Regions from separate parts of the Homo sapiens genome. Here all the other regions are linked to region 5. Evidence: fine-mapped expression QTL. A gene starts in region 5. Each other region holds a variant in brackets. All regions are shown on one strand. Distances are from middle to middle.

Region 1 (4,583 bases), 65 kb after region 5:
GCCCATTTCTCCTTTAAGTTTTGCTATTTTATTCAATGTTGACTTTGAAGCAGTGTTATTTTGGATACCTAAATATTAAATATTTAAATTCTTATATTTCCTTGGTCAATTCTCCCTTTATCAGTTTACAGTGTCCCTCATTTTGCATGTGATATTCTTGCCTCTGAAAGCTACCGGATCATATTATACAGGTATTCTAGCTTTGTTTTGAAATAATGTTTCCTCTTTGCATTTAATGTGGAAATTACTCTTCTAATGTTTTCAATGTTACAGGTAGCTTTAATTTGCTAAGGTGGCCATAATAAAATACCACAAACTGAGTGGCTTATACATCATGTATTTGCTCACAGCTCTGGAGGCTGTAAGTTTATTATCAAGGTGTTGACAGGGTCGGTTTCTTCGGAGGCCTCTCAGAATCTACCATGTCTCTTGCCTAGCTAAATCAGTGATTTTCTGGCGGACACTGGCATTTCTTGGCTTTCAGAAGCATCATTCCAATCTCTGCCTTTGTTTTTATGTGACATTCTCACTGGGTCTATGTCCAAATTTCCCCTTTTTATTAAAAGGCCAGTAGTATTGGATTAAGTCTTGCCCTAATTACTTCATCTTAGCTCATTACTTCTACAAGAACCTTGTATTAAAATAATGTGACATTCTACAGCACTGGGGGTTGAAACTTCAACATATTAATTTGGGGGAACAAAATTCAACCTGTAGTGTTGGTATTTTCTTCTCAGTGTCTAATCTGCTATATATCCCATTCAGTTTATTTTTCATTTCAGACCTGTAATTTATATCCATAGAAGTTTGATTTTGGTATGTTTTATATCTTTCATATGTTTACTTAACATGTTCAACCTTTCCTCTTATTTATTGAACATATATAATATAGTTAGAATACCTGTAGCTTTTTTTTTTTTTTTTTTTGAGATGGAGTCTTGCTTTGTTGCCGAGGCTGGAGTGCAGTGGCACTACCTTGGCTCACTGAAACCCCCTCCTGGGTTCAAGCGATTCTCCTGCCTCAGCCTCTCGAGTAGCTGGGACTACAGGCGCCTGCCACCACGCCCGGCTAATGTTTTGTGTTTTTAGTAGGGACGGGGTTTCACCGTGTTAGCCCGGATGGTCTCGATCTCCTGACCTCGTGATCTGCCCGCCTCAGCCTCCCAAAGTGCTGGGATTACAGGCATGAGCCACTGCACCCAGCCGTCTGTAGCCGTTTTAATGTTCTTGTCTACTCATTCTATAGGTGCCATTTTCTGGTCTCTTTCTATTGAATGGCTTTTCTGCTCTTATTTTCTTTCCTTCATGCGTGATTGGTAACTTTTTATTTGATGTCAGACAATGTGGATTTTACCTTTTTGGTGGTGTTTTTCTTCTCCTAATATTATTTTCACACTTAAATCTGAGATGCTTTAAATTTACTTGGAAAAAAAAAACATTGATTCTTTCAAGGCTTGTTTGTAAACTTCATTAGACAGAACCAGACTAGCTATTAATCTAGGACTATTTTTCTTCCACTACTGTGGCGATACCCTCTGACGAACCTACCTAATATCATGTGAAATACAAGGCTTTTCACTCTGACTTGTGGGAAAAAGAAATGTTTGAGCTCTAAGAATTGTTTTTTTCTGCTGTTTACAGATAGTTGCTTCTCCAGCTTCAGTTAGTTTCCTCACATTCATGCACTGATTCATGCTCAACTAAAGCTGAGAAGGACCTTCAACAAATCGCTGCAGTTATCTTATTTTTTGTGCAGCTTTCTTTTCTCTTGTATTCTTCCCTGAAAATTGTAGCTGTATTTCCCTTTTTGGACTCCTAGCTCTGTCTTCTCAACTTAGGGAGGCCACTGGATTCCATTTAGGTTCTCCGTTTCTTTTTATTTTATTTATTTACTTATTTGTTTATTTTGAGATGGAGTCTTGCTCTGTCGCCCAGGCTGGAGTGCAGTGGCCAGATCTCAGCTCACTGCAACCTCCGTCTCCAGGGTTCAAGCAATTCTCCTGCCTCAGCCTCCTGAGTAGCTGGGACTACAGGCGTGTGCCCCCACACCTGGCTAATTTTTGGATTTTTAGGGGAGACGG[G/A]GTTTCACCGTGTTAGCCAGGATTGTCTCGCTCTCCTGACCTTGTGATCCCCCCACCTTGGCCTCCCAAAATGCTATGGGATTACAGGTGTGAGCCACCGCGGCCGGCCTGAGTTCTCCCTTTCTATGATGTAGCCTGAAGTCTCCTTTCAGACAGTAAGCCAGGACAATCGTAAGGGTTCACTTTGTTTTCCCTCTGTAAGGAATTATTTTCTCACACTACCTAATTTCTAACGCTTAAAAAACATTTATATATATATATATGTATATAGTCCAGTGTTTTTAGTTGTTTCTGCCAGGAAGATAACTCCATTACAAGTTACCCCATCTCAGCTAGACAGTTCCTAAGAGAATACATTATTGGCCGGGCATGGTGGCTCATGCCTGTAATCCCAGCACTTTGGGAGGCCAAGGCAGGTGGATCGCCTGAGGTCAGGAGTTCGAGACCAGCCTGATCAACATGGAGAAACCCCGTCTCTACTAAAAATACAAAATTAGCTGGGCGTGGTGACACATGCCCGTAATCCCAGCTACTCAGGAGGCTGAGGGAGGAGAATCACTTGAACTCGGGAGGCAGAGGTTGTGGTGAGCTGAGATCACGCCATTGCACTCCAGCCTGGGCAACAAGAGTGAAACTCCGTCTCGAAAAAAAAAAAAAAGAATATATTATTATATAACTTTTTATTATGAAAATAATATTTTCTTATAAAAATTTCAAGCAGTGCAGATGTATATACAGAAAAACTTGCATTTCTACCATTCTCTCCACCCTCTATTCTCCCAAAATTCAACTGAATTACTGGTCCTCAAAGGAAACAGCTTGCAATTGGTATGCTCACTTACAGATAATTTTATATTCATTTAAATATATATACAAAGATTCATAATATAGTCATATACATATATGCAAATATTAAAAATACATAATTATATATTTTTTAAACAGGGTCTTGCTCTGTCGCCCAGGCTGCAGTGCAGTGGCATATTCTCAGCTCTCTGCAGCCTCAACCTCCCAGGCTCAAGCAATTCTCCCACCTCAGCCTCCTGAGTAGCTGGGACTACAGGCATGAGTCACCACACCTGGCTCTTTTTTTTTTTTTTTTTTTTTTTTTTTTTGTAGAGAAGAGTTCTCACTGTGTTGCCCTGGCTGGTCTCGAATTCCTGGACTCAGGCAATCCTCCTGCCTCAGCCTCCCAAAACGTTGGGATTGCAGGCATGAGCTGCTGCGTTTGGCCTACATAAATATTTTGACATAAATGAGATATTAAGTACTTTTGTAAATTAATTTTCTTGTCTAATTCTGTATCTTTGTTTTTCCTCTATATTTGCCATACATATCTATGTCAATATTTTAATTGTCTGCATATAACTTCATAGTATGGATACATCATTTTTAAATGTAGGTATTTCTCTATTGATGTACAAATGTTTTTCACCAGTTTTTCTGTTTAACAAATGTTACAATGAACATTTTTGAATCATATGTTTTCGTGCACATGTGTAGCATTTCTAAAAGGAAAATTCTTAAAAATTTAATGAGCATTTTAAAGTTTGCTAGAAATTGCCAAAATATCCTGCAAAGTACTTGTACTTTGTTCTAACAGTATTAGGATTTCCTATTCCCTCATGATTTTTGTTGTCAATCCAATGGAAGAAAATTGCTTCTTTGTTTTAATTTATATTTACTTTACGAATAGTAAAGTTGAATATCTTTTGTTATCTATTTGTAGTTATTAATCTGTGAATTGTTGCCATATTTTTCTATTGGGTTGTTTGATTTTTTATTTATAGAAAAAATTTGTATAGTCATTTGTTTGTTATACATATCACAAGTATTTTCTCCTAATCTCTTCTTTATATTTTAACTTTGTATAAGAAATAATTTGCCGTATAGAAATAGTGCTGGAAAACATGTCTTTTGAGAAAGAACATACCTTGTTCTATTTTTTTCCGCTTTTGAAAATTCCATCTCATCCACCAGCTGCAGGACAAATCACTGAACTAAATGTTTAACTGGTTTTGAGAAAGAGAAAAACAGCTTCTGACATTCACAAGCTATGCCCAGTTGTTGCTAGGAGCTGGCTTGGCACTCACAGCTAGGCCTTGGTATTACTCTATCAGGAACATCAGCATTAAATGAGGCCGCTGTGTGACCATGACGGATGAAGGCGAAAACAAGACCGCTCTGCAATCATGTCTGAACACAGACAGAACATGGACATTGTGCAAGTCACAAGAATGACCAGTTATCTCACTATTCTGAATAATATAAGTTGCTGGGTTTTTTTCTTTTACCAATTACAAGTCTACCCTTGCTTTAGACTGCCCTCACAATAGATAAGGTGTATTAAGATACCTGATCATCATATTACCCCGACTTCCCGAGAGTATTCAACCCAGAGAAAAATTCTGCTTCCTCAAAATCTCCCGCAAATCACCTAATACAAATCCAAACACTATAACAAATCCTTTTATTATCTTCCTACTGAGATGCCCCCATAAT
Region 2 (4,583 bases), 340 kb before region 5:
CTCCTTTAGTCTTCTTCCCTGTAGAAGGATACATCCCACTCCAAATGAAATCAGGAGAGCCCACGGGACTCACTTGGGCTAGTGAAATGTGGAAGTGATATGTGTCTTTTCCGGGCAGAAGGTTTAAGAGAGTGGTTCACTTTGTCTCCTTTCTCTCTGCCATGAAGACTGACAGTATTCCAGAAAGAAGATACTCCCTCAGCTTGTTTTCTGAAGTAAAGATGACATAGCATAGCAGCTGGGCGCGGTGGTTCACGCCTGTAATCCCAGCACTTTGGGTGGCTGAGGCGGGCGGATCACCTGAGGTCAGGAGTTCAAAACCAGCCTGACCAACTTGGTGAAACCCTGTCTGTATTAAAAATACAGAAATTAGCCAGGCATGGTGGTGGGCGTCTGTAATCCCAGCTACTTGGGAGGCTGAGGCAGGAGAATCACTTTAACTACAGCTACTTTAACCTCAGCTACTTGGGAGGCAGAGGTTGTAGTGACCCTAGATCGCACTACTGCACTCCAGCCTGGGCGACAGAACGAGACTTCGTCTCAAAAAAATGACATAGCACCGAGAAATAGCCAATCCACAGTAGACTTGTAGCATGAGTGAAAAGTAGATATTTATAATTACATGTATCCAAAATGTAGGATACATTTGTTACTCAAGCAAAACCTTGTGAATCTTAAATTTAATTTTATTCAGCATCTACTTAAATGTTATCTCATCTAGTCCTCAAATCAACCTTATTAGGCAAATAACTATTCTAGTTGGTGCTTTCATTTGCGAACAACAGACACCGAGTCTGGTAATATAAGCAGAAAAACAATTCGTTAGAGAGATAACACATTGTTCTTAGAGTCCATGAGAAGAGCAGAGAGTCAGGTGAAGAATATATGGCAATAGTCAAGGGAGGAAGAGCTCACCCAGAATCACCCCAGAGAAGCAGTTTTCTTAGGGTCCCACTGGAAGCACTGTCACTTCTCAATACTGTCACACTACTGGACTCTAGCCTCTGCCACAAACACTGCAAATAAGTGTTGACTTTCTCTACATCTTAGTATACCTCCTAAAGTGTCAGAGCTCCTGGCAGAAGCGTCCACATGGCTATGCTCGTCCCCTGGGTCTATGCCAACAACTTGAAGTTAAGAATATCTGCCCCTCATTCAGTTTCCAAGTAAAAGGTAAGGCCCTGACTCACATTTCTCTCTGGATTACCCCCAATGTTATTTAGATACTATGAAGACAAAAGTGATTGATATAGTATTTTCAGAAAAAAAAGTTGAGAAAATTGAACCTTGGAGAATTTAAGTCACCAATTCAAAATCACACACCAAGAATGACTTGTATCAGTCAGAATGCTTACAGCTGCAAGTAACCAAAATCCACAACTCAAGCAATGAGGCGTATGTTATCACACACAAAAGGTATTTCGAGTGAAGTGAAGGCTTCTGGGTGGACTGGATCAACTCTTTAATGATGTAATTAGTTCATGTAATTTCTTAGCCCTCCTGTCCACATTTTCAGCTTCGTATTAATAATGCTAGTACCCCTCATGGTTATATGATACCTGCAAGAGCCATCAAAGCTATGCACGTCTTTGTTCATTTTCTACCAGAGAAATTCTATCACCCTATTTATACCTTCTTTCTCGCTGAGCCAAATTACATCACATCTTCATCCCTAGACATTGCCACATACTGATTAGCTTAAGCTTGGCTTCCTGAAATAATTGCTGGCAAGAGGAAAGGCATTATTATGATTGATTAGTTTATCATTTATTCTGAAGCTGAAGATAAGGGCACCTTTTTTTCAATTACATGAGCTTCATGAAGGAAGGCAAATGCCTTAAGAAAATTACGGTTCTCTTAAGAAGAAAGAAGGGGGAAATGGATAATCTGTAGGCAAACAACAACCATGTTCTGCGTCCTTCTAATACATACATCTTTAAAAGTGTCCACACCTACATGAAATTCCTTCAAGTGTCCCTAAAGAGAGGCTCCCTAAAGTTTCTTCTGGGTAATGCACTCAACTCAAGTCCATAATCTCTAAGTGATGCATCAGTGATCCAAGACTAAATAGTATTATACTAACCCCAAACACATTCATGTACCCATGATGCAGGAAAAACAAGGCAACATTAATAAAAGTGATTATTTTAGACCATCCTGGCCAACATGGTGAAACCCCGTCTCTACTAGAAACACAAAAATTAGCTGTGCATGACGGCACCCACCTGTAGTTCCAGCTACTCGGGAGGCTGAGGCAGGAGAATCGCTTGAACCCGGGAGGCAGAGGATGCAGTGAGCCAAGATCGCGCCAATGCACTCCAGCCTGGTGACAAGAGTGAGACTCTGTCTCAATAAAAAAAAAAAAGTTATTATTTTTGGAAAACGACAGGAGGGAAAATAAAGTGATAATGCTTTACAATACAATATAATCTGT[T/A]AGACAGCAACACAGAGGATGTTCTGTCCTAGAAGTGAATTGAGTTTCCTGATCACCCAAGCTGGCTTCCCCTGGTTCTGTTCTGGGAAAGTATCCCTCATCAGTATTTCCCCAAAGTCAGAGGCAGGATAATCATTTTCCAGATTATTCCTCATAAGAGGCTTCACTGCTTTAGTAGTCTGCTTTGTATTGGTATAAGCATACAGACAAAGGGATCAAGGTTGTTGGCTAGGATTTTTGTTTCTTGGGCAGTAAAGCACACATAAATTAACAGCCTATTTACTTTTAATCCATTCTACTGGCGAGGAACTCCAGCCAGAGATCTTGTCAAACCATGGGCTTGGAATCTGACAATATCACGTTCCTTGCTAGAGCTTTCAAAGTGCTACATTCAGCTTCTGTTTAGCTATTAGACGACATTTATGAAGACAGGAAGAAGAGCTACCATACTCCAACATCCAAAATTTCCTCTACTAATACATTCTACATAGGAACATGATGATTCCCAGTGTAAAATGCCTAGTAGTTTAACAAAATGCTTTTTAATCGTACGAAGCAACATGTGCCAAATATTTACAATTCATTTCATTCATTTAATGATAACCTATTGAACACTTAGAGCCTAAAGTAGCTATTGGTACAGTAAGGCTACATAACACATAAGTATAATATCTCAGAGGTAGACAAAAATACTCATTTTTCTCATCCATGGGTCTTCAAAGTCAATGAGGGCAGAATAAATTCAGGCTGAAAACTGAATATAGGTGTGCTTCACTATGTGTCTCATTCCGGTATATAGGTTGAAGCAGTCGCAACTAGACAGGGCATCTTTTTTTTTTTCTCACAGCAATGGCAGTAGACGAGACAAGCCCAGCATTAAAGGTACTTCAAAGGTACATTTCAACTCTCTTCTCAGATCATGATAATCTCCTCTAGAAACACTTTCAAAGACATACCCAGAAGTAATGTTTAATTTGAGATCTCGGTACCAGGTGACCCAATCAACTTGACATATAAAATTAACCATTACATCATCCAACTATCATAAGGCCATGGCAGGGAAATGTATGTATAATACCAGTACTACAAGTGACTGAATAATTATGACAATTTAATCTACCACATCTGCTGCATCCCAAGAGTTGTTACAAACACTGAGGATAGAGCAGTGCTCAAAACAGGCAAAGCCACAACGCTGCTGGGTTTTAACTTGCAGTTGTGGAAACATGAAAACAATGAGCACAACCCCAGGTGTATTTATAAAATGTTACGCAATGTTAAAAATGTTCATAGTAGACCAGGTGCAATGGCTGACGCTTGTAATCCCAGCACTTTGGGAGGCCGAGGCGGGTGGAACACCTGAGGTCAGGAAGTCGAGACCAGCCTGAACGACATGGAGAAACCCCATCTCTACTTAAAATACAAAATTAGCCGGGCATGGTGGCGCATGCCTGTGATCCCAGCTACTCCGGAGGCTGAGGCAGGAGAATCACTTGAACCCGGGAGCCGCAGGTTGCAGTGAGCCGATATCGCACCACTGCCCTCCAGCCTGGGCAACAGGAGCGAAACTCCATCTCAAAAAAAAAAAAATGTTAATGGTAGAATCGATGGTGGGTAGACAGTGAAACGTTTGAAAAAGCGACGCAGGTTAAGGGGTTTATAAAGTGGATGTGTTTTTGACATTTTGGATGGGGTGGTCAGGGAAGCATCTATGAAGAGCTTACATTTGAGCAGAGATCTGACAGATGGGAGGGATGGATCCAAACTGAAATCTGGGAGGAAAGATTTCCAAGCAGTTGGTAGAGCAAGCTGAAAGGGCTTTAAGATGAAACATGACCTGCTGTGTTTTAGGACAGCAAGAAAGCCAGCACAGCTTAGAAGACTGGTGGGGGATGAGCCCAGAGCGTTAAGCAGTTGTGTGATCACACAGGGCCTTGCGGCAATAAAAAGAACTTTGAAGTTCATTTAAAATAGTATGGGTAATGTGACAATGTTTTAATATAAATAGATGTGAACATTTTAATTTATTAATAAGGGAACCAATAGGGAAGAAAGAAAAGAGAGTTCCAAGAGTATTTGACAAGCAAGAATTTATATAGTCAAGGCGAAAAAAAAATGCCTATGTAAGACTTCTAAGTTAGATATATGG
Region 3 (4,583 bases), 970 kb after region 5:
GTGCTAAGATCTCTTGCTATAATTGTGGATTTGTTTAATTCTCTCTGTGTATCTGTTAGGTTTTGTTTGTATATTTCAAAGTTAGGGGCATACAAGTCCACGGTTATTATACCTAGTTGATGTATTTTTATGCAATGTTTCTCTTTATTAATGATTTTCTCTCAAATTCCACTTTGATATATTATTATCTCACTAATCCTTTTTTGGTTAGAATTCACATAGCATTTATTTGTTCTATTTCATTAACTTCAATGTTCTGTTGGTTTGGTTTTAGGTGTATATCATACAAACAGCATATAATTGGACTTTGTTTCATAATTTGGTAATCTTTCCCTCTATATAGCTGAATTTAATCTATTCACATTTATAATGATTGCTGACATTTTTAGAAATTTTCTCTCATTTTATGTTTTTTGTATAGCATCATTTTCTGTTTCTTTTTTTCTCTTGACTTTCAATTTGATTTATAAAGTTTTCTATATTTTTTCTCTACATATTTTGAAGCTATAGATAATATTTCTAGTTTTTACTGGTTATTTTTAATATTTTAAGGATATATAAAACTGTACTAATTTTTTCTCTGCAATACTCTTCACCACTTCTGTCATAAGGATATATAAATTTTTTCTAACACAACCTAAAATTATTATAATTTTCATTCACCTACTGAATATGATATAGAACTTAGCACATTATAACCTCAAACTAAATACTCTAATATTTTTCATTTTATCTTGAGCATTAATTTTATATTTTCTTAAACATCAAAAAGTAATTCTTACATTCAATTAATTAAATATATAACTATATAATCTATTTTTGGTTTTTTTAACTTTTAGTTTCAGGGGTACATGTGGATGTTTGTTATATGGATAAATTACATGTTGCAGGGGTTTGGTGTACAGATTATTTCATCCCCCAGGTAATAAACACGGTACCTGACAGGTAGTTTTTTTATTCTCACCCTCCTCCTACGCTTCACCCTCAAGTAGGCCCTGGTGTCTATTATTCCCTTCTTTGCACTGATTGATACTCAATACTGATTATTAGGTGTCCATGTTGTATTAGTCCGTTCTTGCACTGCTATAAAGAAATGCCTGAGACTAAGTAATCCATTTAAAAAAAAAAAAAAAAAGGTTTAATTGGCTCATAGTTCCACAGGATGTATAGGCAGTATGGCTGGGGAGGCCTCAGGAAACTTTCAATCATGGTGGAAGGTGAAGGGGAAGCAAGCAGGTCTTACATGGCCAGAGCAGGAGGAAGAGAGCGAAGGGGAAGGTGCTACACACTTTTAAACAATCAGATCTCGTGAGAACTCAGTCACTATCATGAGAACAGCAAAAGAGAAATCTGCCCCCATGATCCAATCACCTCACACCAGGCCCCTCCTCCAACATTCAAATTACAAATCAACATGAGATTTGGGCGGGGACACAGATCTAAACCAGATCACATGTGTACTCAATGTGTAGCTCCCACTTATAAGTGAGAACATGTGGTGTTTGATTTTCTGTTCCTGCATTAGTTCACTTAGGATAATGTCTTCCAAATCCATCTATGTTGCTACAAAGGATATTATCTCATTCTTTTTTATAGCTGCATGGTATTTCATGGTGTATATGTACCACATTTTCTTTATCCAGTCTACCTTTGATGGGCATTTAGGTTGATTCCATGTCTATGCTGTTTTAACCTGTTCTTGTATTCTAAACTTGCCCTTTCTTCTTTTTAAGTATATATTTTAAGAGTTCCTTTAGTGACCCTCTCTGACCTGTAAAATAGCAGGCTGAGCATGTGTAAAAATACTTTGATCTACCCTCACTCTTGAAATTATTTTTATCTAGCACTTTAAGATAACACTATTTTTTACTGATGATAAATATACTGTGAGTCTAATTGATTCTTTCATAGGTAATCAATGTTTTCTGGTAGTTTTAAAGATAGTATCTTAATCCTTAATGTTCTGCAGTTTTATTATGATGTATCTAGCTGTATATTTCCATTTATCCTGCTCAAATCTCATGTATACTACAGAACTGAGAACTCAAGCATTCAATTCTGGATGTTTTTTCAGTTATCATATCAGCAAACATTACTTCTCTGCGATATTCTTCAC[C/T]ACTTCTGTCATTCCTACAGAATATTTGTTGAAGCCTCTCAATCTATAGCTCATATGTCATTATTCTGTTTTTAAAAAATCATTCTCTTTGCTATATTTAGAATTTCTCAGTACTCTGTCTTGCAATTTAATATGTTCTCTCTGACTATATGCAACCCAAAGTTTATGTTCTTTTGAATTTTTTATTTAAATGACTTTTTTTCATGTCCAGGATTTCTGATTGGTTCTTTTATATTCATGTGGTCTCATTTTTCATTTCTTTTTGCTTGTTTATTTCATAATTTTCTATTTTCAATGAAAGTTGTTCATTTACCTCTTTCAGCATCCTAAACATATTTTTTAAATGACAGATCTTTTCATAAAATCATTTCATTCTGAATGAATTCATATTCTGATCGTTTATTTCCTTGGTGACCTCACTTAAGTGTAGATATTTTTCACGCGTTTTGAAATTTTGGTGTAGAAGCTCATTTTGAATAGAATATAATTTTATTTTTCTTCCACATGTTCTATTCTCCATCCTTCCTTTTTATTGTCATTTCATGTTGCTCCTACATAGTTTCTAGGACAGTTGTCCAGAACAGGTCTTATAACAGATTTTCAAAACCCCTGTTACATAGTGATATTGAAGATATAGTAGAGCCAATGGCAGCTTGGGCCAGTTCCTCACAAGAAAAGTCTATCTTTGGTCTTCTATTCCCCCACCTCCCAGGCCAATTGCTTCCTATAATTTTCTAGCCCTATCAATGAGTGGCAATAGCAGTTAAATTCTTCTTATCTCTAGACTCATATATACAACTACCTACCTAACTTCTCCACTTGGGTATCTAATAGGCATCTCAAACTCTATGTGCCTAAAGTTGAACTCTTGGTTTTCAGTCTCGCCCTAAACTCTCCCTCAGTGTTCCTCATCTAAATAAATGGCACCACCATATACCCCGTTGGTCAGGCCAAAAACCTTCAAGTCATCCTTAAATTTCTTTCCGTCACTATCCTATATCCAACCCATCAGCCTGAAGTGTCAGTTCATTCTTCGCAAGATATCTAGAATCCAGCACTTCTTACCATTTCCATCACTACTTCCCTGACCCAAGATACCATTATCTTTTCATTACCATTCCAAAAGCCTCCTTACTGGTCTTCATGCTTCTGCTCTTGGCCCCTTTTAATCAACATTCTACAGGACATCCAGAGAACTCACTTCATGATATAAGTCAGACTGTATCACTCTACTGCTCAAAACCCTCCAATGACATCCATTCACATTCAGAATAATCTAAATTACTGTCATGGCCCACAAGCCCCTACCTGATCTGGTTTCTCCTTATTTCTTCAAATCATCTCCTACCACTTTTTACTAATTCCACAATGTCTGGTGGAGATTAAACATTATCATGTGTGTAGAATGTCTCCCATAGGGTTTCACACATGTACATTGCTCAATATATGTATACTTATTATCATAGTTGTATAATGAAGAAGTTAAGAATGGGGCCTGGCCTAGAATGATGGGATTTAGGCAGAGAACAATATGAGTAATCATGAAAAGGAAAAAAAAATATGGTGATGGAATGCTTAGAAGGGCTAAGAAGAGAAGCTCAAAGTGAAGGAAGTGAGATGCTGTGCCTTGCTGCCATTACTTTTAATTCCCTCCTGCCCACCATACACATATAACACCACAACCACTGCCCACTTTTTATTCAATTCAGTACTCATCTGAGTCATGTGGGAAAAGTAACCATCTTCTCAACCTTTTCATATTAGAATTAACCACTAGCGAGCAAAAGCTTGCAGATTTTGATACATCAATTAAAAAGCTAGGTCTTTCTGCATTCCTGTAAGCACCATTACAACCAACACCCATACCAATCTGTGTCCTTCAGTTGGAGTTGTTTCAAGTAAGAGTTAAAATGTAATATTTCAAGACAAATTCCTTACGGTAGATAGATATGCCTCCCCTCTTATAGGTCTTGCTTTGGCAGAGCTGCTGAGCACTAGTTCTTTACTAACAACTCACCGGCATTCTCAAAATCTTGCTGATTTTGGTATATAATTTACGAATCTGTAAATGCTTCAGAAGGGAGTTCTCTTGATTCTACTAAAAATAAGCATAAAGTGATTCTTACTCATTGATGCTATTAATTCCTACATAGTGATCTGTCACCAGTTCTCACAAAGGAAGTTCTACACAGAGAGCCATTAAAGCAAAATCTATTAGTATCATCTGATGGCTCAAGTATTTTGTATTATAAATTGGTCACATGAATAAAACAAAAGATTAAACTCTTCTTTAAAAAACAGGTTTTCACTAAAGAACTTACCCATGTAAACAAATACCACCTGCTCCCCCAAAACCCATGGAAATTAAAAAAATAAAAATTAAAACAGGTTTTCAAAATATTCTTCTCAATATTATTAGAATTTTATATCACCCTAGAGATATAAGCACCAGAGTTAAAATAGCTCC
Region 4 (4,583 bases), 290 kb before region 5:
GATTCTCCTGCTTCAGCCTCCCGAGTAGCTGGGATTACAGGTGCCCACTCCACGCCCAGCTAATTTTTGCATTTTTACTGGAGATGAGGTTTCACCATGTTGGCCAGGCTGGTCTCAAACTTTTGACCTCAGGTGATCCACCCGCCTTGGCCTCCCAAAGTGCTGGGATTATAGGCGTGAGCCACCACGCCCAGCCAGGCATACCATTTTCAAACTGCAGAAAATCAAAGATAAGAAAAGAGTCTTGAAACAAGCCATCAGAAACAAAAGACACCTATATAGGATCAAAGACAAGAATTACACTTGACTTCTCAGAAACCAGGCAAGCAAGAAAAAGGTGGAGTGAAATATTTAAAGTTTTGGTAGAAAAACAACTTCACCAACCTAGAATTTTGAATCCTATAAAATTATCCTTCACAAGTGAAGGAGAAATAGAGACTTTCTTGAATAAACAAAAATTGAGAGAATTTATTGCCAGAAGACTAGCTTTGAAAGAAATGTTAAAAGTTATTCAGAGAGAAGGAAAATAATATAGATTAGACACTTGGATCTACATAAAGAAATTAGAGAAAGAATAAGTAAACTAAAAGCTTTTATTTTTCTTATTTGTAATTGATGTAACATATAATGGTTTGTTTAAAAAAGAATAGCAACAATGTATTCAATATATATACTTCTGTATTTATATGCTTATATATAAGTAAAATAAATGATAGCAATGTTGCAAAGGACAGGATGGAGGAATTCAGATTATTTTGTTATTTTAAATTACTTTCATTACCCATGAAGTGGTATAGTGTTATTTGAAAGTGGACCTGGATTGGTTTTAAACATATATTGCAACTTTAGGGAAACCACCAAGAAAAGATTAAGAAGGAATATGACTGATATATTAATAAAGGAGAGAAAATGGAATCATATGAATATTTAGTTATAACTACAAAAGGCAGAAAAAGTGTGGGAGACAAAAATAGAAACAGAACATGGGCAACAAATAGAAAACAGTTGCAAATGTGTTCAATGTTACCCACCTGTATCAATAATCACTTAAACATCAATGGTCTAAATATCGCAATTAAAAGACAGATATTGTCATAGTGTATCAAAAAACAAAACCCAGCCATATGCTTTTTACAAGAAACTCACATTAAATATAAAGACACTTGCAGGTTAAAAGTAAACAGATATAGAAAGATATGCCAGCCAGGTGCGGTGGCTCATGCCTGTAATCCCAGCACTTTGGGAGGCCGAGGCGGGCAGATCACCTGAGGTCAGGAGTTTGAGACCAGTCTGGCCAACATGGTGAAACCCTGTCTCTACTAAAAATACAAAAAACATTAGCTGTGCATGGTGGCGGGCACCTGTAATCCCATCTACTCGGGAGGCTGAGGCAGGAGAATCACTTGAACCCAGGAGGCGGAGGTTGCAGTGAGCTGAGAATGCGCCATTGCACTCCAGCCTGGGCGACAAGAGTGAAACTCTATCTCAAAAAATAATAATAATAAAAAAAATAAAACTAAAAATAAAGATATGCCATGCTACCACTAATCAAAAGAAAGTGGGACTATCTCTATTAATTTCAGACAGAGCAGACCACCAGGCAAGGTAAGGTATCATGGATAAATTGAATAATTACATAATGATAACGGAGTCAGTCATCCAAGAAGACATAACAATCTGCTATGGTCTGAACGTTTGTGTCCCTACCCCACCCTCCCCCTAACACACAATTTAAATGTTGTAATCCTAATCCCCAAAAAGAGGGTATTAGGAAGTGTGGCCTTTGATGGGTGATTAGGTCAGGAGGACTGAGGCTTCATCAATGGGATTAGCAGCCTTATAAGAAGACCCAATGAGATTCCTTCCCCCTTCCACCACTTGAGGACACAGCTGAAAGTCAGGGGCCAACAAACCAGGAAGAGGCCCTCTCCGGACACTGAATTTATCAGCACCTTGATCTTGGACTTCCCAGTCTCCAGGAGTATGAAATTAATGCCTGCTTATAAACCATCCAATGTATGCTTTTGTTATAGCAGCCTGAATGGACAAAGAGACAATCCTTAATGTGTATGCACCTACAAACAGAGCATCAGAATGCATGATTCAACAACTGATAAAGTTACAAGGAGAAACAGATAAATCCAATGTTATAGTCAGAGATATTTTTTCTTTTCTTTAAAATAGGAATAATACTAGTGCCTACTCAACAGAATTTGTGTGAAGATTCAATGAGTTAATGGGTGTAAGGGCCTTAGAATAATACCTGACACATTCTAAAAGCCTGAAAAATGCCGGCCATTATTGTTACTATTACTATTATTATTATAGTCTACACGGAAC[C/G]ATTATTATTTTTTATGTTTGACACACAAATCACTATACTAATCTGTCACCTTTGCTTTTCTTCTGTAAATCTAGTAAAAAGGGAGGAAGAAAGAGGAGTACAGAGATGTTATAAAACACAGATCACAGAGAGAAGCCATTTATTTTTCCACCGCTACCCTTGACATGACTGCTGCCGAACTGAAGGAAGAAAATTGCGGCGGGAAGAGATCAATAAAAATTATTCTTTTCCACCTTCTTTCCCTGCTGTTGGAATTCAACCTTTAGGCTAACATTATGGCAAGATTTAGGATGCAGAGGAAATGGGATTCTTCCCTAGTACCTCACTCATGTTGCCCTTTGTCCAGTCTTGGCAGAAATATTGCAGAGTAGTAGTTGAGGTGCCACAGTAATTCATGAGGAAATTAGAAAGGTGATATGGTTTGGCTCTGTGTTGCCACCCAAATCCCATGACAAACTGTAATTCACAGAGTTGGAGGAGGGGCCAGGTAGAAGGTGATTTAATCATGGGAGCCAACTTCCTTTTTGCTGTCCTTGTGATAGTGAGTGAGTTCTCACAGGATCTGGTTGTTGTAAAAGTGTGTAGCACCTCCCCCTGTCTCTTATTTTCCTGGCGGCCATGTGAAGACACGCCTCCTTCCTCTTCACCTTCTGCCATGATTGTAAGTTTCCTGAGGCCTCGCCAGCTATGCCTCGTGTACCGCTTGTAGAACTGTGCCTGAAACCCCTTTTCATTATACACTACCCAGTCTCAGGTATGTTGTTATACTAGCGCAAGAACTAACTAATACAGAGGGTAAACATAAATTTGAAGTAAGAAAGATGAAAAAAAGAGGGGTGCAATATATATTTGTTTATAATAAAGACAGTATCTTGTTACTTTTAAGGGAAACAAAATTCACACCTGGAGGAAGCTTTTGTTATTGTTATTGTCGTTGTTGTTGTTCTCTAATTTTTGTGCATGAAGGTTCATTTTGTAGACAGCAGTGCCCTTGTGATAAGAAGTAGGGAGGAGCTAACACTTACTGAGCACCTACTATGGGAAAGATGCCTAAGCTTAGCCATCCCCTGAACAAACCAGCAAGGTAAATTTTGTCCATTTCATAGATGATAAAACTGAAGTGCATCCAGGTTTAAGTCAATTGCTGAAATATGCATAGTAAGTAAATTGCGTATCTGGGATTCAAATCCAAACCTGTCTGATTTCCAAACTCTGATGTTCCCATACTACCTACATTTAAAAAAAATGTGTGCCCCAAAGAGAAATATAGAGTTCCCCTAGAAAGCCAGTGGGTGATATAAATTGCACTTCTTCATACACGATCAGCCATAGAATATGAGTTCTGGTCCCTGGTGCCTGGAGACTTCTGTACTTCTCAGAGCTCATCTCCATTCAGAACTCTTCAGGAATGTCAGGTTGACTCCTCTGAGACCATACAGATTGATACAGCAAAAAGAACATGGAGTTGGAATCAGACAGTCCTGAATTCCAGTCATTGTTTCATAATTTCCTTGTCCACAACTTTGGGCAAGTTTCTTGGGCTCTCCGAGCTTCAATCCCCTCCTTATAATTCTCTTTTCTAACTTCCTTCTTCCTAATCTCATGTGGGATACATAAGAGGCATCTTCTTCTTATCTTTGGTCAGTTCTCTTGTGTGAGTTAAATATTGCCACAATAATTATGTGTAACAATCCTCCAAATTCTATGGCTTATAGTTGTCTATTATTTTCATCAATCTGTTAATTGGCTGATGTCTCTGCTTCAGTGGTACAGCAGCTGGGGATATTTATCTCCAGATCTGTTTTTCTTGGGCTCAGATTGAAAAGTGAACAGCTATTGCAGGGATATTCTTCTCATGGTCATTGCAGAGGCATAGGAGGGCAAGCAGAAACATGTGAATCCTCTTAAGTTATTGAATCAGAACTGGCATACTGTTATTTATGCCCTATTCTATTGACCAATGCAATTCACAAGGCCAAGCCCCAAGTTAAGGGAGACAATGTACATTTTCTGCTCATCAATGGCGTGGCCAAAGTGTAGTTGCAGGGGAGGGTGAAGAATTGAGGTTGACAAGTCAATCCCTCTTAGAAACTACTACCACTAAGTTTCTAAGTAGTTTCCTTTATTGTTCTCAGGCTTACTATTCTATTTTACCAGGAACAGAATTCTTCAATTTCCTGACTTCTTACATAAAGCTTTCTGTATCCACATTTACCAACGATTTTCTCTTTTCTTTCAGTCC
Region 5 (4,467 bases):
TTGAACCCGGGAGGCGGAGGTTGCAGTGAGTCGAGATTGTGCCATTGCACTCCAGCCTGGGCAACACGAGCAAAACTCTGTCTAAAAAAAAGAAAAAGAAAGAAAGAAAGTGTGCTCCCAGGAGTCGAACCCTGAGTACTCTTCCTGTATTAGGGCCTGGATATGAAAGGTGAAGCTGGACACTACCTCTGTCCCAGTCAGGCCCATCCTGTACTCTGAACTGTAAATGGGCATGATGGCCAGAGACCTACTTTCCACATTTCACATCCCTCCCCTCAATCCTTACACTGAATGTTTACGGAGCAGCTAGTAAACACTGCCAGGTGCTGAAGATAAAATTAAGAGTGAGAGTGGATCCCTGCCTGCCAACTTCTCAGGTGGCGGAGCTCATAGCACAGGAGAGGCCAAAAGCTCACATTCCTCCTATCTCTTTTTTTCACTGCTTATCCTTTCACCACTGTGATCTTCCCCGTGTCCCTGCTTGGGGCTTGGCCCTGTTTCTCTGCTCTTTCCCAGCCTCCTACTTCCATGGATGATCATTCAATTCTATCCTAAAGGACCGAATCGAATTTCTTTAAAAATCTATTCAGCCAGTTTTATTACATCAGTCATTGTTTCACAATCGAGACTGATCCATGGTCAGAGATAAAATACACTGAACAATTTTTTTTCTTTTTTTTTTTTCTTTTTGAGATGGTGTTTTGCTCTTATTGCCCAGGCTGGAGCACAATGGCGTGATCTCGGCTCAGGCAACCTCTGCCTCCCAGGTTCAAGTGATTCTCCTGCCTCAGCCTCCCAAGTAGCTGGGATTACAGGCGCCCACCACCACACCTGGCTAATTTTGTATTTTTTGGAAAGACAGGGTTTCTCCATGTTGGTCAGCCTGGTCTTAACTCCTGACCTCAGGTGGTCTGCCCCCCTCAGCCTCCCAAAGTGCTGGGATTACAGGCATGAGCCACCACGCCCAACCTTACATTTAACAATTTGAAGAGTATTTTTTGACTCTTTGTGCAGCGACAACTTCTGATTTTCATCTCAGCATCTTCACTCTGGGATGATTTTACTCGCCAAACATTAATGAAGCCTCTACTCTGGGCCAGAACTTTTCTAGGCATTAGGGATAGACCAGATAGCAAAAGCAGTGTTTGACTTATATATTCTAAAATGGAAGCAGATGATGAGCAAAGTACTGTATATACATACGACATGGTGGCCGGTAGCACAATAAATGTTATGTAGATAAATGAAGCAGAGTAAAGGGTTACAGATTGGGGGCAGAGAACAGGGTGCTCTGATAGGTCCGGTGGTCAGAAAAGTTCTCTCTGAAAGCAGTAGGAGGAGTCAGGCAGCCAACTGGGATGACAGCCTTGCAAGGCAGAAGGAATAGAAGATGCAAAGGCTATGAAGCCAGAACTGCTTGATGGGTGTGAGAATCAGCAAGGAGGACAGTGATTAGAGCACAGCAGAAACTGGGAAGAGGCACAGGATAGAAGGAGGGGCCTTGTAGGCCTTGGCTGCAACTTTGCTCTTTATTCTCAGGTGAAACTGTTGGAGGATTTTGAGCAGGAGAGTGAAGGGATCTTTTTTTTTTTCTTTTGAAACGGAGTCTCGCTCTGTAGCCCAGGCTGGAGTGCAGTGGCGCTATCTCGGCTCACTGCAACCTCTGCCTCCAGGGTTCAAGCAATTCCCCTGCCTCAGCCTCCCGAGTAGCTGGGATTACGGGCATGCGCCACCACGCCCAGCTAATTTTTTGTATTTTTAGTAGAGACGGGTTTCACCCTGTTAGCCAGGATGGTCTCGATCTCCTGACCTCGTGATCCGCCCGCCTCGGCCTCCCAAAGTGCTGGGATTACAGGCGTGAGCCACCGCGCCCGGCCCTAATTTTTGTTTTAAAGGATTCCCGTGGCTACTCTATGGAGAATATACTATAGGAAGAAAAGAGTGAAAGCTAAGTGATTAGTTGCAGCAGTCTGGGTGAGAAAGAAAGGCTAGGAATCAGGGTGGCAGTGGCAGAAATGACAAGACGTGATTGAATTGGCAATATATTTGAAAGCAGAGCCAACAATTCATGTTGGCTCTAGAATCAGGGATCCATTCAAAGTAGAAAAACAAAATTATTTAAAAACACAAACATCTTAACAGTTCATTTTTAAGTACAGAATAATACCCAGTGGCCAACGGCACTAATAGCAAGACAAGAAATAGAGAATCAAAGATATGTGGGATGCCTGCAATTGACTATTGGATGCTGATTTTGCAGAACTTTTTTATATCTTGTTACTTAGGTTTTGTGTGTGTGTGTGTGTGTGTGTGTGTGTGTGTGTGTATACCATATTATTTCCCTACTAAAGAAGTCACTGTTTAAATACTACCTTTTTCATGAAAGGCAGGACCCCCTGAGGGTCTTCATGATTCTAAAAGGAAGTGTGACTCCCACAGGGCAGCCAGCAGTGTCAATACTTCTCTGAGTGAGATTTAAATAAGAAAGAAAATGTGTTAATAAAACATCAAGCCAAGAGAATCTAGTGGCCACAGACCCACGAAGGAACACTGAGTTGTGCAAGCTACCTAGGTAGAAGGGTGGCTAATCCTTTCAGTTTGAACAAATTTACCTTCTCTGAGACCGGACTCAGCGCTCGCCAAGTCCTCTGCTAACGCAGGCCCCACAACTAGGAGCTAGGGGAGCCTATCCCAGCCTTTAACTGCCCGCCGAGAGACCTACCACAAGCCGGTGGTTCAGCGACCCAGCGCATCCTTTTCCTGGCCACGCCCTCTTTGTCTACACCCTTCCCATCCCGGCCACGCCCCCACGCCGCCGCGGCCCCCCCACTCCCAGCCTAGCCACGCCCCTCCCCCGTCGCGCCGGCGCACCGTCCGTCCGAATGGCCTCGTGGGCGGAGCTTGCGTAGCCTCCCGGACCCCGGCGCACACCGCCCCCCGCCCCCCGCCCCTGGCCACCAAGCGCCTCCGTGGACACGCACTTCCTGCGAGGGCTCCGTGCGCACCTTGGCCGAGCCGAACCGAGCCGAGTCCTGTCCTTCCAGGCCGTTCGCAATGGTGGATGAGTTGGTGCTGCTGCTGCACGCGCTCCTGATGCGGCACCGCGCCCTGAGCATCGAGAACAGCCAGCTCATGGAACAGCTGCGGCTGCTGGTGTGCGAGAGGGCCAGCCTGCTGCGCCAGGTACGTCCGCCGAGCTGCCCGGTGCCCTTCCCCGAAACGTTTAATGGCGAGAGCTCCCGGCTCCCCGAGTTTATCGTGCAGACGGCGTCTTACATGCTCGTGAACGAGAACCGATTCTGCAACGACGCCATGAAGGTGGCATTCCTAATCAGCCTCCTCACCGGGGAAGCCGAGGAGTGGGTGGTGCCCTACATCGAGATGGATAGCCCCATCCTAGGTGATTACCGGGCCTTCCTCGATGAGATGAAACAGTGCTTTGGCTGGGATGACGACGAAGACGACGACGACGAAGAAGAGGAGGATGATTATTAGGCCCTCGACCCTCGGGCCTCGGGGGGGAGGGCCCTGCACGCCGCCACCCCCTCCCCGCAGCCCTCACCCCGCCAGGAGCCACTGCTCTCCCCCTTGCCCTCCGGTCCCCTTACCTACCCGCGCCCGTCTGCTCTCTCTCTTCATTTCTCCGTAGTGCTTGTCTTTGTTCCAGGAATAGCGCTCCAGTTACCTGCTGCTGGGGTCGGGGCTGGAGCCTCACTCACTCGGAAGTGCTTGGAAGTGTCATCTACCCTGGCCATCCCCGGGATCCCTCCCCTGCTAATCTGAACTGTGTCCTGAACCCCAGCTATTGGCCAGGCCCCTGTTACAAACTGCGCAGACCACCCGTAGCCCTGCTGCTGCCACCTGCCCTGCTGCCAGGCTTACATCTTCCCAGAGAACTATGCTGCCACTTCACATCCACTCACCACATCCCACCTACAGACTACCACCTTTCGAGATCAGGACCAACCTGGAAAATGCCAGAGTTGGCTATGCCTTTTCAGACATTGATTTGGACAGCTCACCAACCCCTGAAGGGGCCGTTCAGCCTGGTTAGTTTTCTACCTACTCCGAGTGTCCTCCCCTGCCCCACCAGATTGCTGCAGGGGCGCGGTGTGCCTGGCAGCCAAATTGTTGACACTTCTTTTTTCCTATGCACTGGTTTTACACAGCTGTCATTTTTCTTTCAAAATTGCAGCAGTCCCACAGATGTGTGCATTTGGACAAATAGTACTTAAAAACAAAACAAACAAGCACTCAGCCCAGCTCCTCAATACTACCTGGAAAAAGCATTGGCATTATTTTCAATAAATATCAAGCACTAAAAAAAGAAATGATTGTCTTTTAATGGTTAAGTGCTATCACTGGCCTCTACCACTGTCACTCTGACTACCATTATTCCCGTGGAAATCAGGGAATACAACCAATCCTAGTATTCCCCGCTGTCATCTCCAGGCTGCTGGGGACAGC
Region 6 (4,583 bases), 230 kb before region 5:
AGAGAGCGTATATCCTCATGCTAGATAGTTTAGGTGTCCAAGTCATAGCATTTTGGTGACTCTTAGTCATTTCCTTGTGAGTCAACCATCTCAGGCTGCTTACATGCTTTTATGTTCTTCCAACTTCCATGACCAGAGGATGGATTAATTTCCTGTAAATATATACTTATACACATGTCCACTCGTTCCAAAGTGACATCAAATACCCCTTATCAATAGCAGTGTCAGAGCAAGCTTTCATTAAAGCACAGGAGAAGAGCTACTTTAAGTGTTGCTGAGAACAGGATCATAGGTCTATGAAATAGAGAGAGAGAGAGAAAGAGAGACTGCTGAGGCAACCTCTGTTTGCTCCCTGAGGTCACTCCTCTGCAGGTGTGGGAGAGCTGCACTTACACAATATTGCATACCACTGGATTGAGGATGGTAGCTAATGTTTATGGAACAAATAAATCTCTCAGTAGCATAAGTAGAAAATGACTCATGAAAATATAATCTGCTTCAGTGCTGTGTTTTCTGCTGGAAAAAGGATGAAAGCAAGTTATTACAGGCAGTTTTCCAAAGGAATCTCACCAATAATCTGTTTACCTTAATGTACAAAAAAATGTTGTTTTTTGTATGTCTCAATCCTTGTCCCAGCTTCCTTATTAGCTGTGTGACCTTAGGCAAGTTTCCCTTGGTTCCCTTATCTTTAAAACAGAGATACTAACAGTACTTATTTTATAGTCTCATTGTAAAGATTAAGTGAAATAAAGTATTTTTAAATGGTTTAGCACAGCACTGAGGTGATAGTAAGTGCATAGTAAATGTTATTGTTTTTAGTTGTCTACAACTTTGGGTGACTCATGAGCTCCTGGAGAGTGGAAAATGCTTTTGATGTATTATTCATCCTTGTATTTGACTGACATTGTTTTAGTGAGGTAAGATAAGCAATAGGTTTGGAGTCCTGGCTTTGCCATTTACTATCTCTGTGCCTTTGAGAGAGTTCCGCTCTTCTTCTCTTCCCATCCTTGCCTTAACCAGTGAGCTTCAGTAATAATTGTAATTACATTACATGTTTGAGATAGGAATTCAATCAGATAAAGTACATGGTGCTATTAGAGACCTCAATAAATTATAGCTGTTATTTATTTATGTGTGCTCCTCTAATGGTAGATATTATTATTATATGCATTACATTATTAAGTACAGAAGTTATTTTCCATTCTGCTGCTTTAGGTTAATTTATCATCAATAGTTTCCATGTTTTTTCTCATTGTAATAATTTTATTGAAAAATGTCTTAGTCCATTCCTGCTGCTATAACAAAATACCTTAGTCCAAGCAATTTATAAATAATAGAAACTTATACCTCACAGTTATAGAGATTGAGAAATCTAAGATCAAAGCACTAGCAGATTCATTGTCTGGTAAGGGCTCACTCTCTGTTTCCACGATGGTGCTTTGTTGCTGAATCCTCTGGAGGGAATAAACACTGTGTCCTCACATGGTGGATGGGACAAAAGGGAAAAAAAGGACTAGGGTGCCCCTTTCAACATATTTTATAAGATCACTTATCCTATTCATGAACACTCATGACTTAATCACTTTCCCAACGGCTCCACCTCTTAATATTATCACAGTGGGTATAAAGTTCCAACATATAAATTTTGGAAGGACACTGCTATGGTCTAAATGTATCCATCCAAATTTATACGTTGGAAATTAAATCCCCAGTGCAACAGTTTTGGTAGGTGGGGCCTTTTGGGACGTATTTAGGTCTTGATAACTCTGCTCCGATGAATGGATTAATACTGTGACAAAAGGGCTTGATTGAGGGGAGTTTGTCTTTTTTTGCCTTTCTGCCTTCTGCTCTGTGAGGACACACTGTTTTTCCCCTCCTGAGGACACACTATCAAGGTGTTGTCTTGGAAGCAGGGACTGAACACTTACTGGACACTAGATAATTGTGCCTTGATCTTGGACTTAACAGCCTCCAGAACTGTAAGAAATGCATTTATGTTCTTTATAAACTACCAAGTATCAGGTATTCTGTTATGGCCACATAAGTTACTTAGACACATACATTCAAATCATAGAAAAGGGCTTTATAATTCTGCCCTTCTTATATTGTTCAGGAGGGTTAGCATGTAGGGATCTAAGAAAATTGAACCTTATGAAAGCAGGAATTGTATCTGTTTTGTTTACTCATATATCCTATAAGTATTTGTGCCAGCCACCCAACAGGTGATCATAAAGTATTTTTGAATGGACATATAAACATAACAAAGAATTTTAGTTTAAGCATACTACTGGATTACAGTGTTAGAAAACACAGTGATAACTGAATAGAACACTATAATTAAAAGGGGAGGAAAAAATTTTAATTGTCTAATTTATTACCATTATTATATAGGAGTCAAGAAAATCTGCATCAATTCATAGGCCTGAGACCTATACAAGTTTTATCAACAAAATAAGAAGATTCAGTTGAAGATTC[G/A]AAGATAGTTGACTACATGCAGCCATATGGTATAGCTGCCACTGAGGGATCAAGATGACTGATGCACTCCTAACAGATCTTCAGAAGGAAGGCACTGAAGTGGATGGAGGGAAGGCACAGAAGATGGGCTGAAAAGAGAGAGGAAGCTGGGAACTCTGCACGGGGCTACTGTACCCTGGGACTCATTCCCGGTCCCGAATGGTACAAATGAGTGAGTTGAACTGGCAAGGAGCAACCTGGGCCTCTGGAATCCTGGCAGGAGGAAATCCCTAGACCACCATGGACACTTGAGTTGGCAGGGAGAGCTTCTTCCAGAAGTGCTAAGGTGAGTACACCAGCCTATGCGGAGCCCAGAGGGTTTGGTTTGGGAGTGTCTGTAGTGGAGCACAGCCACGGATGCCCATCCTTTCAGCCTTGACTTGCTCCCATAGGAGACTTTAGCCTTAGGGGAGCTGTCAGACCTGAACTCTGCAGGGCAGTCTTGCCCATCAAATGGGGCTGGTCCAACCTGAGCACTCCTTGGTCTGCTGGCCTCTCTCAGGACCCCATCCTGGTTGTACTTGCTTGCAATGCAGCGTTGGGTGCCCCAAGGCACCGCATCATAGCTCCTGCACTAGTGGACTGTGTCTGATGGATGGAAGCTTCGGTGGGGCAGCCCCCATGGCCAGGCACCATCCTGCCTACTCCCTCCCACCACTGTAGCTTCCCCAGGCCTATGGCTGCCCTTCATATCTGTCAGCACGTGTGTCTGTGAGTGGATTTTGCCTTACCTGCCCTGCCAGTGAACGTTTGTATGCACAACCTGCCCTGCTTCTGCTGCTGGTGGGAGTGCACTCTGCCCCCACTCCCCTGCCTTATCACCATTTCATTCAGAGTTTTGACAGGCACAGATGCTGCTAGCCCTGCCCCCATCAGCGCCCTGCCCCTGTGCCAACACTGCTGCTGGAGTGAAAGTAGGCATGCAGAACAGCAAGCCCTCCACAACCCTGAGCAGCCAGAGGGTGCACACAGACCTGTGCCCACCAATGCTCTGCCCCTGTGCTAACACCACAAGTGTGACAGCATGCACAACCACCAACAGGCCCCCCTCCTACTCCCCCTATACCAGCTGTGCGGCCTCTGCCACTGCTGTGAATGCCCACAAGAAGATAGGCACCCTGGCACCCACTAACACCCTGCTGCAGCCAGTTAGCATGCACCCGTCCATGTTGTTGCTTACATGCACCCCTTCATACTGTCACTGCCACTGCTGCTCGGATGTGCAAATGAGAAAAGATCCCGCTACCATTGCCCTAAGAAACGCTTTGGCTGGCACCAACCATCAGAGTGTAGTGACCACTGGTCCAAAAGCATTTTGGTCCCCTAGTGCAGTGGGTTGATAACCTCAAGAAGCCAGAGAATAACACTGGGGTCTGATACAAGTCCCTCAGAGTTGGAGCACGCAGTACAAAAGTTGAGAACTGAGCCTTGGCCCCTAAAATTTTCCAAAAATGAAGATAGTTAACTGAACCCACCTGTGATAGTTAAAACTGAGTGTCAATTTGATTGGATTGAAGGATACAAAATATTGATCCTGGATGCATCTGTGAGGGTGTTGCCAAAGGAGATTAACATTTGAGTTAATGGGCTGGGAAAGGTAGATCCACCCTTAATCTGGGAGGGCACAATCTAATCAACTGTCAGTGTGGCTAGAATATAAGCAGGCAGAAAAATGTGAAAAGAGAGACTGGCTTAGCTTCCCAGCCTACATCTTTCTCTGGTGTGGATGCTTCTTGCCCTCGAACATCAGACTCCAAGTTCTTCAGTTTTGGAACTCAGACTGGCTCTCCTTGCTCCTCAGTCTGCAAATGGCCTATTATGGGACCTTGATTGTGTGAGTTAATATTTAATAAACTCCCCTTTATATACATATATATATATATATATATATACATATATATATATATACATATATATATATACATATATATATATACATATATATATACACATATATATATACATATATATACACACATATATATACATATATATATACACATATATATATACATATATATATACACATATATATATACATATATATATATACACATATATATATACAT
Region 7 (4,583 bases), 270 kb before region 5:
ATGGTTGAACTAGTTTACACTCCCATCAACAGTGTAAAAGTGTTCCCATTTCTCCACATCCTTTCCAGCACCTGTTGTTTCCTGACATTTTAATGATTGCCATTCTAACTGGTGTGAGATGGTATCTCATTGTGTTTTGATTTGCATTTCTCTGATGGCCAGTGATGATGAGCATTTTTTCATGTGTCTGTTGGCTGCATAAATGTCTTCTTTTGAGAAGTGTCTTCACATCCTTGGCCCACTTTTCGATGGGGTTGTTTGATTTTTTTCTTGTAAATTTGTTTAAGTTCTTTGTAGATTCTGGATATTAGCCCTTTGTCAGATGGGTAGATTGCAAAAATTTTCACCCGTTCTGTAGGTTGCCTGTTCACTCTGATGGTAGTTTCTTTTGCTGTGCAGAAGCTCTTTAGTTTAATTAGATCTCATTTGTCTATTTTGGCTTTTGTTGCCATTGCTTTTGGTGTTTTAGTCATGAAGTCCTTGCCCATGCCTATGTCCTCAATGGTATTGCTTAGGTTTTCTTCTAGGGTTTTTATGGTTTTAAGTCTAACATTTAAGTCTTCAATCCATCTTGAATTAATTTTTGTATAAGGTGTAAGGAAGGGATCCAGTTTCAGCTTTCTACATATGGCTAGCCATTTTTCCCAGCACCATTTATTAAATAGGGAATCCTTTCCCCATTTCTTGTTTTTGTCAGGTTTGTCAAAGATCAGATGGTTGTAGATATGTGGTATTATTTCTGAGGGCTCTGTTCTGTTCCATTGGTCTATATCTCTGTTTTGGTACCAGTACCATGCTGTTGTGGTTACTGTAGCCCTGTAGTATAGTTTCAAGTCAGGTAGCGTGGTGCCTCCAGCTTTGTTCTTTTGCTTAGGATTGTCTTGCCAATGCGGGCTCTTTTTTGGTTCTGTATGAACTTTAAAGTAGTTTTTTCCAATTCTGTGAAGAAAGTCATTGGTAGCATGATGAGGATGGCATTGAGTCTATAAATTACCTTGGAGCAGTATGGCCATTTTCACGATATTGATTCTTCCTATCCATGAGCATGAAATGTTCTTCTATTTATTTGTGTCCTCTTTTATTTCGTTGAGCAGTGGTTTGTAGTTCTCCTTGAAGAGGTCCTTCACATCCCCTGTAAGCTGGATTCCTAGGTATTTTATTCTCTTTGAAGCAATTGTGAATGGGAGTTCACTCATGATTTGGCTCTCTGTTTGTCTGTTATTGGTGTATAGGGATGCTTGTGATTTTTCCACATTGATTTTGTATCCTGAGACTTTGCTGAAGTTGCTTATCAGCTTAAGGAGATTTTGGGCTGACATGATGGGGTTTTCTAAATATACAATCATGTCATCTGCAAACAGGGACAATTTGACTTCCTCTTTTCCTAATTGAATAACCTTTATTTCTTTCTCCTGCCTGATTGCCCTGGCCAGAGCTTCCAGCACTATGTTGAACAGGAATGGTGAGAGAGGGCATCCCTGTCTTGTGCCAGTTTTCAAAGGGAATGCTTCCAGTTTTTGCCCATTTAGTATGATATTGGCTCTGGGTTTGTCATAAATAGCTCTTATTATTTTGAGATACGTCCCATCAATACCTAGTTTATTGAGAGTTTGTAGCCTGAAGGGCTGCTGAATTTTGTCAAAGGCCTTTTCTGCATCTATTGAGATAATCATGTGGTTTTTGTCTTTGGTTCTGTTTATATGCTGGATTAC[A/G]TTTATTGATTTGCATATGTTTAACCAGCCTTGCATCCCAGGGATGAAGCCCACTTGATCTTAGTGGATAAGCTTTTTGATGTGCTGCTGGATTCGGTTTGCCAGTATTTTATTGAGGATTTTTGCATCTATGTTCCTCAGGAATATTGGTCTAAAATTCTTTTTTTTGTTGTTGTGTCTCTGCCAGGCTTTGGTATCAGGATGATGCTGGCCTCGTAAAATGAGTTAGGGAGGATTCCCTCTTTTTCTATTGATTGGAATAGTTTCAGAAGGAATGGTACAAGTTCCTCTTTGTACCTCTGGTAGAATTCAGTTGTGAATCCTTCTGGTCCTGGACTTTATTTGGTTGGTAGGCTATTAATTGTTGCCTCAATTTCAGAGCCTGTTATTCATCTATTCAGTGATTCAGCTTCTTCCTGGTTTAGTCTTGGTAAGGTGTATGTGTCAAGGAATTTATCCATTTCTTCTAGATTTTCTAATTTATTTGCATAGAGGTGTTTATAGTATTATCTGATGGTAGTTCGTATCTCTGTGGGATCAGTGGTGATATCCCCTTTATCATTTTTTATTGCATCTATTTGATTCTTCTCTCTTTTCTTCTTTATTAGTCTTGCTAGTGGTCTATCAATTGTGTTGATCTTTTCAAAAAACCAGCTCCTGGACTCATTGATTTTTTTAAGGGTTTTTTGTGTCTCTGTCTCCTTCAGTTCTGCTCTGATCTTAGTTATTTCTTGCCATCTGCTAGCTTTTGAATGTGTTTGTTCTTGCTTCTCTAGTTCTTTTAATTGTGATGTTAGGGTGTCCATTTTAGATCTTTCCTGCTTTCTCTTGTGGGCATTTAGTGCTATAAATTTCCCTCTACACACTGCTTTAAATGTGTCCCAGAGATTCTGGTATGTTGTATCTTTGTTCTCATTGGTTTCAAAGAACATCTTTATTTCTGCCTTCATTTCGTTATTTACCCAGTAGTCATTCAGGAGCAGGTTGTTCAGTTTCCATGTAGTTGTGCGGTTTTGAGTGAGTTTCTGAATCCTGAGTTCTAGTTTGATTGCACTGTGGTCTGAGAGACAGTTTCTTATAATTTCTGTTCTTTTACATTTGCTGAGGAGTGTTTTACTTCCAACTATGTGGTCAATTTTGGAATAGGTGTGGTGTCGTGCTGAGAAGAATGTACTTTCTGTTGATTTGGGGTGGACAGTTCTGTAGATGTCTATTAGGTCTGCTTGGTGCAGAGCTGAGTTCAATTCCTGGGTATCCTTGTTGACTTTCTGTCTCATTGATCTGTCTAATGTTGACAGTGCAGTGTTAAAGTCTCCCATTATTATTGTGTGGGAGTCTAAGTCTCTTTGTAGGTCACTCAGGACTTGCCTTATGAATCTGGGTGCTCCTGTATTGGGTGCATATACATTTAGGATAGTTAGCTCCTCTTATTGAATTGATCCCTTTACCACTATGTAATGGCCTTCTTTGTCTCTTTTGATCTTTGTTGGTTTAAAGTCTGTTTTATCAGAAACTAGGATTGCAACCCCTGCTTTTTTTTTTTGTTTTCCATTTGCTTGGTAGATCTTCCTCCATCCCTTTATTTTGAGCCTATGTGTGTCTCTGCATGTGAGATGGGTCTCCTGAATACAGCACACTGATGGGTCTTGATTCTTTATCCAATTTGCCAGTCTGTGTCTTTTAATTGCGGCATTTAGCCCATTTACATTTAAGGTTAATATTGTTATGTGTGAATTTGGTCCGTCATTATGATGTTAGCTGGTTATTTTGCTCGTTAGTTGATGCAGTTTCTTCCTAGCATCGATGGTCTTTACAATTTGGCATGTTTTTGCAGTGGCTGGTACCGGTTGTTCCTTTCCATGTTTAGTGCTTCCTTCAGGAGCTCTTGTAAGGCAGGCCTGGTGGTAACACAATCTCTCAGCATTTGCTTGTCTGCAAAGGATTTCATTTCTCCTTCACCTATGAAGCTTAGTTTGGCTGGATATGAAATTCTGGATTGAAAATTCTTTTCTTTAAGGATGTTGACTATTAGCCCCCACTCTCTTCTGGCTTGTAGAGTTTCTGCCAAGAGATCCACTGTTCATGCTGTTAGTCTGATGGGCTTCCCTTTGTGGGTAACCTCACCTTTCTCTCTTGCTGCCCTTAACATTTTTTCCTTCATTTCAACCTCGGTGAATCTCACAATTATGTATCTTGGGGTTGCTCTTCTCGAGGAGTATCTTTGTGGTGTTCTCTGTATTTACTGAATTTGATTTTTGGCCTGCCTTGCTAGGTTGGGGAAGTTCTCCTGGATAATATCCTGAAGAGTGTTTTCCAACTTGGTTCCATTCTCCCTGTCACTTTCAGGTACAACAATCAAATGCAGATTTGGTCTTTTCACATAGTCCCATATTTCTTGGAGGCTTTGTTCGTTTCTTTTTACTCTTTTTTTCTCTAAACTTCTCTTCTGACTTCATTTCATTCATTTGATCTTCAATCATTGATATCCTTTCTTCCAGTTGATTGAATCAGCTACTGAAGCTTGTGCGTGCGTCACGTAGTTCTCGTGCCATGGTTTTCAGCTCCATCAGGTCATTTAAGGTCTTCTCTATGCTGTTTATTCTAGTTAGCAATTCTTCTAATCTATTTTCAAGGTTTTTAGCTTCCCTGCGATGGGTTCGAATATCCTCCTTTAGCTCAGAGAAGTTTGTTATTACTGATCTTCTGAAGCCTACTTCTGTCAACTCTTCAAAGTCATTCTCCATCCAGCTTTGTTCCATTAGTAGTGAGGAGTTGCGATCCTTTGGAGGAGAAGAAGTGCTCTGGTTTTTAGAACTTTCAGCTTTTCTGCTCGGTTTCTCCCCATCTTTGTGGTTTTATCTAACTTTGGTC

Direction of the effects. Positions count from the first base shown, and alleles are read on the strand shown. Sizes are in standard deviations (SD) of each study's normalised expression. Not every link is listed here.
With allele G in place of A in region 1, the expression in cerebellar hemisphere of the gene that starts at base 2,947 in region 5 is lower (moderate effect, 0.58 SD a copy in GTEx).

Evidence for each region.
Region 1: its variant is fine-mapped to the expression of LDOC1 in cerebellar hemisphere (GTEx, PIP 0.98).
Region 2: its variant is fine-mapped to the expression of LDOC1 in esophagus muscle (GTEx, PIP 0.98).
Region 3: its variant is fine-mapped to the expression of LDOC1 in ileum (GTEx, PIP 0.97).
Region 4: its variant is fine-mapped to the expression of LDOC1 in whole blood (TOPMed, PIP above 0.99).
Region 6: its variant is fine-mapped to the expression of LDOC1 in whole blood (TOPMed, PIP 0.97). The same link has a PIP of 0.9 or more in blood mononuclear cells.
Region 7: its variant is fine-mapped to the expression of LDOC1 in whole blood (TOPMed, PIP 0.99).

The regions. Positions count from the first base shown.
Region 1 is chrX:141,111,031-141,115,613 of GRCh38, reverse strand. No RefSeq gene overlaps it. Among named protein-coding and RNA genes, the nearest start is that of LDOC1, 64 kb to the left of the region's middle. The variant G/A (reference allele first, on the strand shown) is at 2,082.
Region 2 is chrX:141,512,472-141,517,054 of GRCh38, reverse strand. SPANXA2-OT1 (SPANXA2 overlapping transcript 1) reads right to left here. Exons shown (of 4, transcript NR_037183.2): 2 at 2,226-2,343. Among named protein-coding and RNA genes, the nearest start is that of SPANXA2-OT1, 12 kb to the right of the region's middle. The variant T/A (reference allele first, on the strand shown) is at 2,435.
Region 3 is chrX:140,207,112-140,211,694 of GRCh38, reverse strand. No RefSeq gene overlaps it. Among named protein-coding and RNA genes, the nearest start is that of HAPSTR2, 120 kb to the right of the region's middle. The variant C/T (reference allele first, on the strand shown) is at 2,117.
Region 4 is chrX:141,460,871-141,465,453 of GRCh38, reverse strand. No RefSeq gene overlaps it. Among named protein-coding and RNA genes, the nearest start is that of SPANXA2-OT1, 40 kb to the left of the region's middle. The variant C/G (reference allele first, on the strand shown) is at 2,341.
Region 5 is chrX:141,175,609-141,180,075 of GRCh38, reverse strand. LDOC1 (LDOC1 regulator of NFKB signaling) reads left to right here and starts at 2,947. Exons shown (of 1, transcript NM_012317.4): 1 at 2,947-4,467. The coding sequence starts at 3,055. The coding sequence ends at 3,495. RefSeq lists an enhancer at 3,383-3,882.
Region 6 is chrX:141,401,906-141,406,488 of GRCh38, reverse strand. No RefSeq gene overlaps it. Among named protein-coding and RNA genes, the nearest start is that of SPANXA2-OT1, 99 kb to the left of the region's middle. The variant G/A (reference allele first, on the strand shown) is at 2,476.
Region 7 is chrX:141,448,901-141,453,483 of GRCh38, reverse strand. No RefSeq gene overlaps it. Among named protein-coding and RNA genes, the nearest start is that of SPANXA2-OT1, 52 kb to the left of the region's middle. The variant A/G (reference allele first, on the strand shown) is at 1,713.